Linked DNA regions of Homo sapiens: region 2 is linked to region 1. Evidence: fine-mapped expression QTL. A gene starts in region 1. The other region holds a variant in brackets. All regions are shown on one strand. Distances are from middle to middle.

What was found. PIP is the estimated chance that this variant, and not a neighbour inherited with it, causes the effect. A credible set is the group of variants that fine-mapping cannot tell apart.
Region 2: its variant is the best candidate, but not a certain one, in a credible set for the expression of H3-3A in cerebellum (GTEx, PIP 0.80).

What each region holds. Positions count from the first base shown.
Region 1 is chr1:226,059,818-226,065,188 of GRCh38, reverse strand. H3-3A (H3.3 histone A) reads right to left here and starts at 2,473. Exons shown (of 4, transcript NM_002107.7): 1 at 2,378-2,473; 2 at 710-860. The coding sequence starts at 837. H3-3A-DT (H3-3A divergent transcript) reads left to right here and starts at 2,694. Exons shown (of 2, transcript NR_185887.1): 1 at 2,694-4,199. RefSeq lists an enhancer at 802-871 and silencers at 2,065-2,134, 2,753-2,918, 2,505-3,354.
Region 2 is chr1:226,095,580-226,100,950 of GRCh38, reverse strand. No RefSeq gene overlaps it. Among named protein-coding and RNA genes, the nearest start is that of LINC01703, 15 kb to the right of the region's middle. The variant A/G (reference allele first, on the strand shown) is at 2,532.

The DNA of each region.
Region 1 (5,371 bases):
ACAGTTCACCCCTCATCAACTATTAAATTTGAATACACCCGATTGTGCAGTGTTCCTTCCACGTGGAAAAGTTTTTTTTACTAAGTAATTGTCAGCAAGAAATTTACCTCTCATTCTGACTTATTTCTTCCACTGTATGAGCTTTTATTTTAGGTTAATCGTAATATTTGCGGAGGCTAAGTCTAGGCAACTTCTGCCCTCTAATGGCAGATGCCCTTAACAACACAGTGGCTCAGGTAGTTCACAATCAAAAGAGCTAATACAGAAGGAAATAAGCTAATCAAGTAAATGAGGGGGTAGGAACTTTATAAAACACCCAATCTCGATTATATTATTATTTTGCCAAAAACTAGGAAAGATAACCTCAAAAGTGTATTCAAGAAAGCAACACTTAACTATTTTTAAAGAATTACTAATAGTTAACTAAAATGTCAATATATCCCATTAACATTATCAGTGATATACGAGGTCTCCTTAGACCTCCAGGTAAGATTATGGCTTCAAAGTTAAACGTTTTCAATAAAACCTAATACTTAACTTTATATATAAATGATCATACAGTACATTTATTTAAGCAGTAGTTAAGTGTTCAAATGAAAAAAAAAAGTTTCTCTAAAGCAAAAAGTTTTCCTGTTATCCATCTTTTTGTTAAATTATGTGGATACATACAAGAGAGACTTTGTCCCATTTTTTTCCTGTTTTTTAATACCTGTAACGATGAGGTTTCTTCACCCCTCCAGTAGAGGGCGCACTCTTGCGAGCGGCTTTTGTAGCCAGTTGCTTCCTGGGTGCTTTACCACCGGTCGATTTGCGGGCAGTCTGCTTTGTACGAGCCATGGTACAGAGACCTCCTTACTTACCTACCAGCATTGAAAAATCAAAAATCACCATATGCAACTACCAAACATACAACTTTTCCTGCCACGATCACCCCCTCCCCAAATCTGGAAATTATGATCAGTATAAAAAATAATGTTCGTATTGTTATATAATTTGAAAGGGTGAAGATTACGTCTACCCAAAATCTCTTCTTGAAACAAACTAGAGTACTAGAAAATTGTTAGCAGTATCAATCACCTCTCAAAATGCCAATTCTGAGCGACAAACGGCAAAACAAAAATACCTCGAACGGCCTTTGATCCAATTTATTTAATTAAAGCAGTAATTAGAAATGTCTGTAAACATTCCATCCACAAACAAGTCAAAAGAAAAAAGGCACAAACCACTGGAAGGTCGAGTCAAATTACAGCAAAAAAAAGGTCTTACTCCCCCCCACTTTGGCTGCCCCCCCTTCGTCTGACTGTTGATGGATTGCTGTAAATATCTGAAAATATTCTTGGTTTTGCATCTTTACAGTTATGTTGACAAAAAGGCGTCTCGAAAAAACAAGAGAGGAACAACAGCTACCACCAGCGAGCATTCTACAAAGCCCCGTCCTCGCGTCCAGTCCTCACAGGCTTCGCAGTGAAATAAAAAGTGCCCCGCACCCAGGCTTTAATTAACGCACGACATCCGCCGACCGGTCCACCCCAAGCACCACATAAACTTTTGGTTTTGCCTCCTTCGGGTCCCTCGGCACAGGGTCCCCCAACCTGCCCGCCTCGCTCCCAGCGCCTCGAGCAGGAACCAACTCGGCTCCCCGACCAGAACAAAATGGAAACAATCGCAAAACGTATCCGATTCCGTTCCAAAGAGACAAAACACCAAATCGCTCGAAAATACCCCTATCCCCTGCCACGTGCCGCCCTCCAAAATGCAAAAGTTTTTTTTGCATTTCAAATGCATCAAGTTTCCGCCTCTCCAAAAAAGGGAAAAAAACGTCCCTCTTTTAAAAATTCTTGCTTTTTTGAAATGGGGAAGAGAGAAACGGGGGAAAAAATATGGTCGGTGACCAGAGAAGAGAGACAAGATGGTGAAGCTTAGCAACAACTGTGGGGAGGCAGCAAAAAGCGAGTTACCCCAGGGTGCGAAGCGGCGGCGATTTCCACCCCTTTCCCGCTCGAAAACTGGGGGCTGGGGCCCGGGGGCGGTAGTTAAGAGGCCCGCGCGGGTCATGGTGAAGGTTTGGGGTCCGGGGAAGGGGCGGCGGGCGGGATTTCACCGAAGAAAGAGGAGCCAGGGGCGCGGGGAGGAGGAGGGAGAGCAGGCTCGGCGCCGCGGCGGTTGCTGCTGTTGGGCTGAGGCGGCGAGAGACGGGGGAGCCGCCGCCGCCAGAGGGAACAGGGAAACTCGCTCCTCACCTCCATTTCTGGGCCAAAAAGTTTGTGGGCTAAGCCGGAGGGGCTATGGGTCCCCTCCCGGCACCGCCAGGGCCCGGCTCGGGGCTGACGGCAAGCGGGGCTCGGTTCCGGGGAAGCGGGCAGACGGGGAAACTTACCCCCCTTCTCCTTCGGCTGGAGCTCGGCGAGCGAGAGGCGGCGCTGGCGTTGGAGAGCGACGGCGGCGCGGCGGCGGCTGCGAACACAATTGAAAGATGGCTGACACCGAGGCTATCCCCCAACACACGCCGCCCCGCCCCCGCGCCGCGCGCCAGCCAATCACACACAATGGAGGGAAGGCTCGGCCCCGCCCCCATAGCTCCTCTCGCGCCCCGCCCCCGCCCTTCCCCCCGCGCGCCCGTTCGCTGGCGCGCGCTCGCCCCTCCCCCGCGCGCCGCCCGCTCCCTCCTCCAGGCCGCCTCGCGCCGTGTGTGTACAAACACAAAAGACACGCTGAGGGGCCGCCGGCTCCCGCCGAGACTGCCGCCCGCACCCGGCCAGCCCCCGCCCCCGGCCCTGCACTCCCATCCCGCTCCGTGTGCGCACGGCGTCGAACCCCCGAAGCCCGGGTTTGGGGCGCCCGGAGGGAAGTGGGGGGAGGGGAAGGCGGGCGGAGGCGCGGCGGGTGAACGCCCGGCCTGCGGGCGTCTCGGGCCGCGGCGGGGAGGGGAGGGAGGGGCTGCCCCCGCGCGGGCCCCGGCGCGCGCCCCCGAGGAGACCCGGGCGGCAGTGGGGGAGGAGGACGCGGTCGGCCGGGTCGCCGCGCCCCATTGGAAAACGCTCCCCAGCAGGAAGCTGGCAAATAGGAATCCAGCGTCCCGCGCCCGCTGTCGGACCTGGCCGCTGCGGCAGCGGGAGGGGCGGACCGACGGCCTCCTTCCCGCCTGCGCGCTCGGCCAAGTGCGGCCGGGTCCTGCGGGACCGGCCCGAGTCCGCCGTAGACAACTTGATCCGCTAAGACTCCTGGGCCGGCCGCCTGCGTGCAGGGCAGCCCCTCGCCGGTGTTGGCCTCCGGGATCAGGGGACGGGGCTCGCTCTCCTCCCGGGCCCGGGCCCCCGACGCAAGATGGCTGTGTCGCGTCGGCCTCTAAACAATGTGTGGAGCGCGCAGCTCCTGCACCAGGGCCTGGTGGCTTGTCCTGCCCGCCCGTGGGGGCCGTGTGATCTGTTTTCGGTAGGATTGCTTTGGAAAGGAATTGCCGAATATAGATAGTCAAATGTCCGCAGCTTCTGCATAGTTTAGAAGAGGCTGAAAACGGCAGAAAGAAGGCAAACGTGGTTTGGGAATTAGTACATATACCTGTTTTCCAATTCTCAGTAGCATAGGAAACGGACTTTTCATGGCCCAAGTTATCCTCACGACTTGTCAGTTGATTGGCTTTGGAACCTCTGAACCGTCCCTAGATGGTATTGACGCTTCACAACTGTGTGTAAAGGTTTTCAATGGAAGGGTCATGCAAATATCCCGTAGGGTAGTGAAGGAGGAAAATTTCATAAATGAAGGGCAGTAATTATTTGTAATCTGAAGATCTCACAAAGCGGCTTAGTGATAAACATTATCCCGAAACAGATACATGGAAATCAGATACGAGGGAAGAAATGGATTTGTCCAAGGTCACTTAAGTGAGGAAGAGACCTAGGAGAAACAAACAGACAAAAATCCAGGCCTCCCGTTTCATTATTATTTCATGAATGTTAAGTGTCCATGGTTGCTGTGCAGAACACATGCAATCTCTAATCCTATCCTAAAAGCACATATGCAATCAGCTTGGACCGAGCTGCCAGCAAAGAATTTCCTATAATTCAAGCCAAGATGAGTTATTTTGCTTGTTTTTTGTTTTGTTTTCAGGAAACCGAAATATTTATTGTTGGATTTATCCAGGAAGGCTGTTCTGCATTAGTTAAATGCATCATATCTTCAAGAAATGTTAAATGACATGGGTAATGTTTTCTTTGTATGCTGGATTTTTCAATAGCTTCTACTTCTTGGCTTTAAAAAATATTTCTAACCAAGGGTCAGACCATTTTAGGTAGAGTAATTATGATCTTAGATGATTTGAACTAACTCAGCTGTCTGTCCATTTGTGAAATGGGAATAATAATATTTATCTCTATGAAGTTAGGCCACAAATTCTTTCTAGTAGGTTCAAGTATTTAAGCACCTGGAGAGGTGACTGGTTACCCTCCTAGTGGCTTCAGGAAGTTTTCTCACTGAATGAATATTTATTGAGTGCCAACTCTGCTCAGCACAATTCAGGGGTGCTGGGAATGCAGCAGTGAATAACACAAGCAGTGTTCCTGCCCTCATGGGGCTTATGATCTCTGGAAGCACTGCTTTGCACAGGGAAGTAGCACCAGGAGGGGGTAAAGAAAGAGGGACTTTGGAGCCCCAAGATTGGCAAAAACTATAGCTAATGAGAGAGGTGAACTGTAGAGTCTAGATAATGGGGAAGGAGAGGTGCCAGAGCAAGAAGGGATTCTCACAGGGCCCTACGGGTCAGTCCTGAATTGGCTTTACTAGAACTCAGGCCCAGCACAATGGCTCACATCTGTAATCCCAGCGCTTTGGGAGGCCGAGGTGGGTGGATCACTTGAGATCAGGAGTTTGAGACCAACCTGGCCAACCTGGAGAAACCCTGTCTCTACTAAAAATAAAAATTAGCCGTCATGGTGGCACACGTCTGTAATCCTAGCTACTTGGGAGGCTGAAGTGGGAGGATTGCTTGAATTTGGGAGGTGGAGGTTGCAGTGAGCCGAAATTTTGCCACTGCACTTCAGCCTGGGCAACAGTAAGACTCCATCTCAGAAAAAAAAAAAAATAGAATTCTTGGGCTAATAATGGCCTCAACATTTGCAGTTAAAAAAGAAATGGGGAGGATGGGAGCAAAAGGTTTTAAGTTAAAATATTTTCCTTAGAATAGAGTACTTATGGCCATGAATTTAGATTTGTTTATAAGTAGAAAAGTAGAATGGAAAGGATTTTAAAAGCAACGCTATTCATATCTGCTTGGCTCCTGTCAATCAACTGCAAAGATTACTGCCTCATGGAGATGCTTCTGGTCACTGTAATGCTATCTCCATGCACACTTTATCACATTGATTTCACATCACCT
Region 2 (5,371 bases), 36 kb before region 1:
ATAAACTCATAACTGTAATTGGATTTGTGCTTTCTTTTTTCTTTTTTTCTTTTTTTTTTTTGCCTTGCCACCCTCTTCCTAAAACTAGGTCCTGGAGGACTGGACCAAAACTGCTTCCCGTTCTTCCTCCACAGCCCAGCACAGTGTGGTGTGGTGTATAATGAAATGAAATTGGGCCTCCGGAAAAAGCGATTTCCAAGTGTGTTCCGCAGGTGCCTGACGGCGAGGATCCTGTGCGCATGCGCCCACCCACCGAGCCTTAACTGTGGGAATTAGGCATTCTTCCTAAATGGTTTGACCTCGGGCCCTTTTAAAATCTTAATGCTTGTTAACAACATCCAAGGCCATGAATATACTTCGGGAAATACAGTCTATTACTCTTTTTTTTTTTTTTTTGAGACGGACTCTTGCACTGTTGCCCAGGCTAGAGTGCAGCCGGGCGCGGTGGCGGGTGCTTGTAATCGCAGCCACTCGGGAGTCTGGGGTCGCTTGAACCCGGGAGGTGGAGGTTGCAATGAGCCGAAATGGTGCCACTGCACTCTAGCCTGGGCGACAGAGCGAGACTCCCTCTGAAAACAAAAACAAAAACAAAAACAAAAAACAAACAAAACCCCCACACATTAGTAGTAGTTATTACCGTGGTCTTCCAAAGGGATTTTTCTCTTTCAAGCAGCAGTTTGGGACTCTTACCTGTTGTTTGCTGGTTATTACCCAATGGTCCAAGGAGTGAAATTTTTGAAAAACTAAACACTAGCTAGGTGTCACCACGAAGTGAACGCTGAATATAAAAGTCATCATTAATATTCATAAAGTAAGTCAGTGGAGAACAATGACTACATTGGTTAAAATCTGGTTTGCACAGAATATTTTAGGAAAACATTGTTTAGGACCCAGTATCCTCCCTCAGTGTGGAAGTCAGTGAATGAAAATTGTATTTGACAAGTTGTTCTTTAAGAAGACACTGCTTATGTGAAATGAAGTCAACTTGAATCCAGTTATGTGTGTCTGTCTCTTACATAAAAAGCCCAGAGGTAGGAATTACAGAGTTGGATGTGCTATGGTCTAAATGTTTGTGCCACCCCTACAAATCCATATGTTGAAAAAATTTTTTTTTCCTTTGAGATGGGGTTTCACTCTGTCACCCAAGCTGGAGTGCAGTGATGTGGTCATGGCTTATTGTAGCCTCAACCTCTCAGACTCAAGTGATCCTCCCACCTCAGCCTCACAAGTAGCTGGGACTGCAGGCATGCCACCACAGCTGGCTAGTTTTAAAACTTTTTATAGAGATGGGGTTTCCCTGTGTTGCCCAGGCTGGTCTGGAACCCCTGGGCTTAAGCAATCCTCCCACCTCACCTCCCAAAGTGCTGGGGTTATAGGCATGAGCCACCATGACTGGCTTGTATGTGGAAATTTTAACCCCCAATTTTTTTTTAACTTTCATTCTCAAAGGAGGTGATTAATCCCCAAATGATGGTATTATGAGGTGGGCCCTTTGAGAAGTGATGAGATGAGGGTGAAGTCCTCATGACTGGGATTAGTGACCTTATAAGAAAGGCCCAGAGAGCTCACTAGTTCCTTTCTCTCTTTGAGGACACAGCAAGAAAACACTGGCTGGCTGGCACAGTGGCTTACACTTGTAATCCCAGCACTTTGGGAGTCTGGGGTGGGAAGGTTGCTTGAGGCCAGGAGTTCCAGACCAGCCTGGGCAACATAAGCAAGATCCCGCCGTCTCTATAAAAAGTTAAAAAAATTAGCCAGGCATGGTAGCACATGCCTATAGTTCCAGCTTCTTTGGAGGCTGAAGTGGTAGGATTGCCTGAGCCCAGGAGTTCAAGGCTGCAGTGAGCCCTGACTGCACTACAGCACTCCAACTTGGGTGATACAGCAAAACCCTATCTCCAGAAAAAAAAAGTTATCTAAAGAGAGTTTGATAGACCTAGCTCATCTCATCCTTCCCACCAGGCCCCACCTCATAGGCCACTGCCCAGGCAACAGAGTGGCCGTGTGGATCCACCTCACTGTGGCTGGGATAGGGAATGGGATCACATGGTCTGCCTGGGGCTGCCCCTTCAGTGGGGAGCTGTGGGCTGGGCATTTCATCTGTAGGAGACTGTGAGGTGAGAGGAAGCAGAGGATATTCTGTGGGAAGAATCTTCATGGACCAGGTGATAAGTGAGCTAGATTTGGAAGAATGGGTGGGATTCTAGTGAGCAGAGAGGGGTAGAACATTCCCGGAGGGGTAAAGGAAATAAAGTATATATTACAGAGCAGGGGGAGCCTCGTGTGGTTGGAGCTGGGAGGTATGGGGAGATGGGGAGGGCAGGGGGAGGGGAGGGGAGAAAGAGTGGAGAGAAATCAGGCAGCGTTGTGCTGAGGCCAGAATGGGTAGGGGCTATATTTTGGGTAAGCTGGGGGAAAGTGGAACTGATGTTCTCTGAGCTGTGCTCTAGGAATCAGAGAGCAGATGGAGGCTGGAGGTAACTGGGAAGGAGCCCACACCTTTCTGGGCATCCTTTGTCATCCATCTTCCT[A/G]TGTCCAGGCAGGAGCCAACCTGCTCTCCAACCTGGCTTGCACTTGGCTGAACAGACAGTCACTGCCCACTGAGTACCCGTGGGCTCTTCTACCTTTCCAGAACCCTGGCTGCTGGCCAGTGGGCTAGTGCTGGCCAATTGGCTATAATCGGAAGTGTGACCTATATGTGAAAGCAAACAGAGTCTTGGGACCCCAAACTCACTATGCCAAAGGGAAAGTTAAGTTTGGGAACTGAGTCACAGAAAAACTGCCTTCCTTTTGTTCCCAAACAGATAGCGGTAGTTTCACAATCCTGTGTCATAGCCTCATTCGTAAGCCAGGTTCCCACAACAATAGAAGGCTACATATTTCCCAAATTGTTCACAAGGAAATTCCCTGTGGGCCCCTAAACCTTTCAGAATACACATTCCCCTATAAGCTAGTTCTAAAATCAAGTTCTGTTAAACTTCACCCTGACAATGTCAATTATCAGCTTATCTTCACAGGGACAGGATAAGGACAAGACTAGAAATCATCCCTCCTCCTACCCCAAGACTTTGCATAATTGACTTGGTCCTCTGTTTCACATGTAAAAGGTACATTCACTAAGGCTAATAGGAACCTAAGATTGTATCCATTTGCCTCATTGTCTACCCTTCTAGGAGCGCAGTGGAGCGATCTCGGCTTACTGCAACCTCCACCTCCTGGGTTCAAGTGATTCTCATGCCTCAGCCTCACAAATAGCTGGGATTACAGGCATGCATCACCATGCCTGGCTAATTTTTGTATTTGTAGTAGAGACAGGTTTGCACCATGTTGGCCAGGCTGGTCTCGAACTCCTTGCCTCAGGTGCTCCACCTGCCTGGATCTCCCAAAGTGCTGGGATTACAGGCGTGAGCCACCACGCCCAGCCCCCTTACCCCGTTTTTTTTTTTTTTTTTTTCCTCTTCTGCTTGCTCTTTCCCCTTCAAATACTGAAGTTCCTGAAACCTTCCTTGGAAAAATCACAGGTTGTAGATGCTTCTGTGACTTGTTTTTGTTTTGTTGGTTTTTTTGCATCCTCAATCATGGTTAAATAAGCTTCTAATCAATTGAGACCTGCCTCAGTCACTTTTTGGTTTACATGTGTCACTACTGGATCAAAAGGTGTAAGTTCTCCATGCCCTCTCTTCCCATGCCATGGTGACTGGTGATTGTCTAGATGGTGGCTCTTCTAGCAACCTGGATCCCTGAGACCCTAGGTGGAACAGAGCCCTGCCCTTCCATCCTCTTTTCTCCACTGCACTGAGCGTATAACATGATTGAGAAATATACTTTGTTGTGTGAAGTCATTGAAGTTTGGGGCTGATTTACTGCGGTAGAACCTAGCCTCACCTGACTAATAGACCAGCTGAGGGAGCTCCTTGCTCAGCGGCATGGGTTCCCCCGACACCCCCACCCCACACAGAGGTAGGCTGGGGTTGAGCAGAGCAGGGGAGGACAGCAGGACTTTGACCCCTGGAGGATTTGGCTTGGATTTCCCTCTCTTTTTTTTTTAATTTAAAAAAATGTATTTATTTATTTACTTAGAGACAGGGTCTTGCTGTGTTGCCCAGGCTGGAGTGCAATGATGCAACCTTAGCTTACTGCAGCCTCGGACTCCTGGGCTCAAGTAATCCTCCCACCTCCGCCTCCTGAGTAGGTAGGACTACAGGAACACACCACCACATCTGACTAATTTTTTTTTTTTTTTTTTTTGTAGAGATAGGTTTGCTATGTTCCCTAGGCTGGTCTCAAACTTCTGGCCTCAAGCAATCCTCCAGCCTCAGCCTTCCAAACTGCTGGGATGACAGGTGTGAACCACCACCCCTGGCTCAGACCTCTCAAAGGGCTCACTGCCTCCAGGGGGACCACAGCTGGGCTGAGCCTGCATTGCCTGAGCGCATACACCTCCACTGTAGAGGGAGAGGGCACCTGCCAGTGGAGGTCAGCCGCAGGCAACACAAGGTGGATTGTGTCTGAATCACCAGTAGCTCTATACAGCAAGGACCCTGTCCTTGAAGCACTGAGGCTGGAGACCAGACTGGGTCCTCAAGGCAACAGCTTCAGTCACCTCCTCCAGCCTTTCCTCCGAGGGGAGCTCTGAGCAAGACAAGCTTGATCATGTTACTTCCCTACTTAAAAACCTAGGATAGGGGCCAAGCAAAGTGGCTCATACCTGTAATCCCAGCACTTTGGGAGGCCGCGGCGGGGGCGAGCGGATCACTTGAGGTCAGGAGCTCAAGACCAGCCTGGCCAACATGATGAAACCTCATCTCCACTAAAAATACAAAAATTAGCTGGGCGTGGTGGTGTGCACCTGTAGTCCCAGCTACTCAGGAGGCTGAGGCAGGAGAATTGCTTGAACCCAGGAGGCAGAGGTTGCAGTGAGCTGAGAGGGTGCCATTGCACTCCAGCCTGGACGACAGAGCTAGACTCTGTCTCAAACAAACAAACAAACACACACCACCTCCAATAGGCCAGGCTGCTCATGCCTGTAATCCCAGCACTTTGGGGAGCTGAGGCAGGAGGACTCTTGAGTCTAGGAGTTGGAAACTAAACAGGGCAACATAGAGAGACCCTGTCTCTGATTAAACAAACAAACAAAACCCATAAAAATTAGGATAAGGTCCACATACCCTGGTCAAGCTTCAAGGTTGTTTGCAACCTGGCCCCAGGAAAGCAAAGTCCTGAAGAGTGGCTGCGGCAGACTGGCTCCTTCACCATTGCTCTGCTACAGCCACTACCAAGAGTTTTGTCTTCCCCAACTCCCTGATAGGTTCATGCACCTGGACAGTGGCATAAGCCATTCCCCACACCTAGAATGCCCTCACATGTCTCC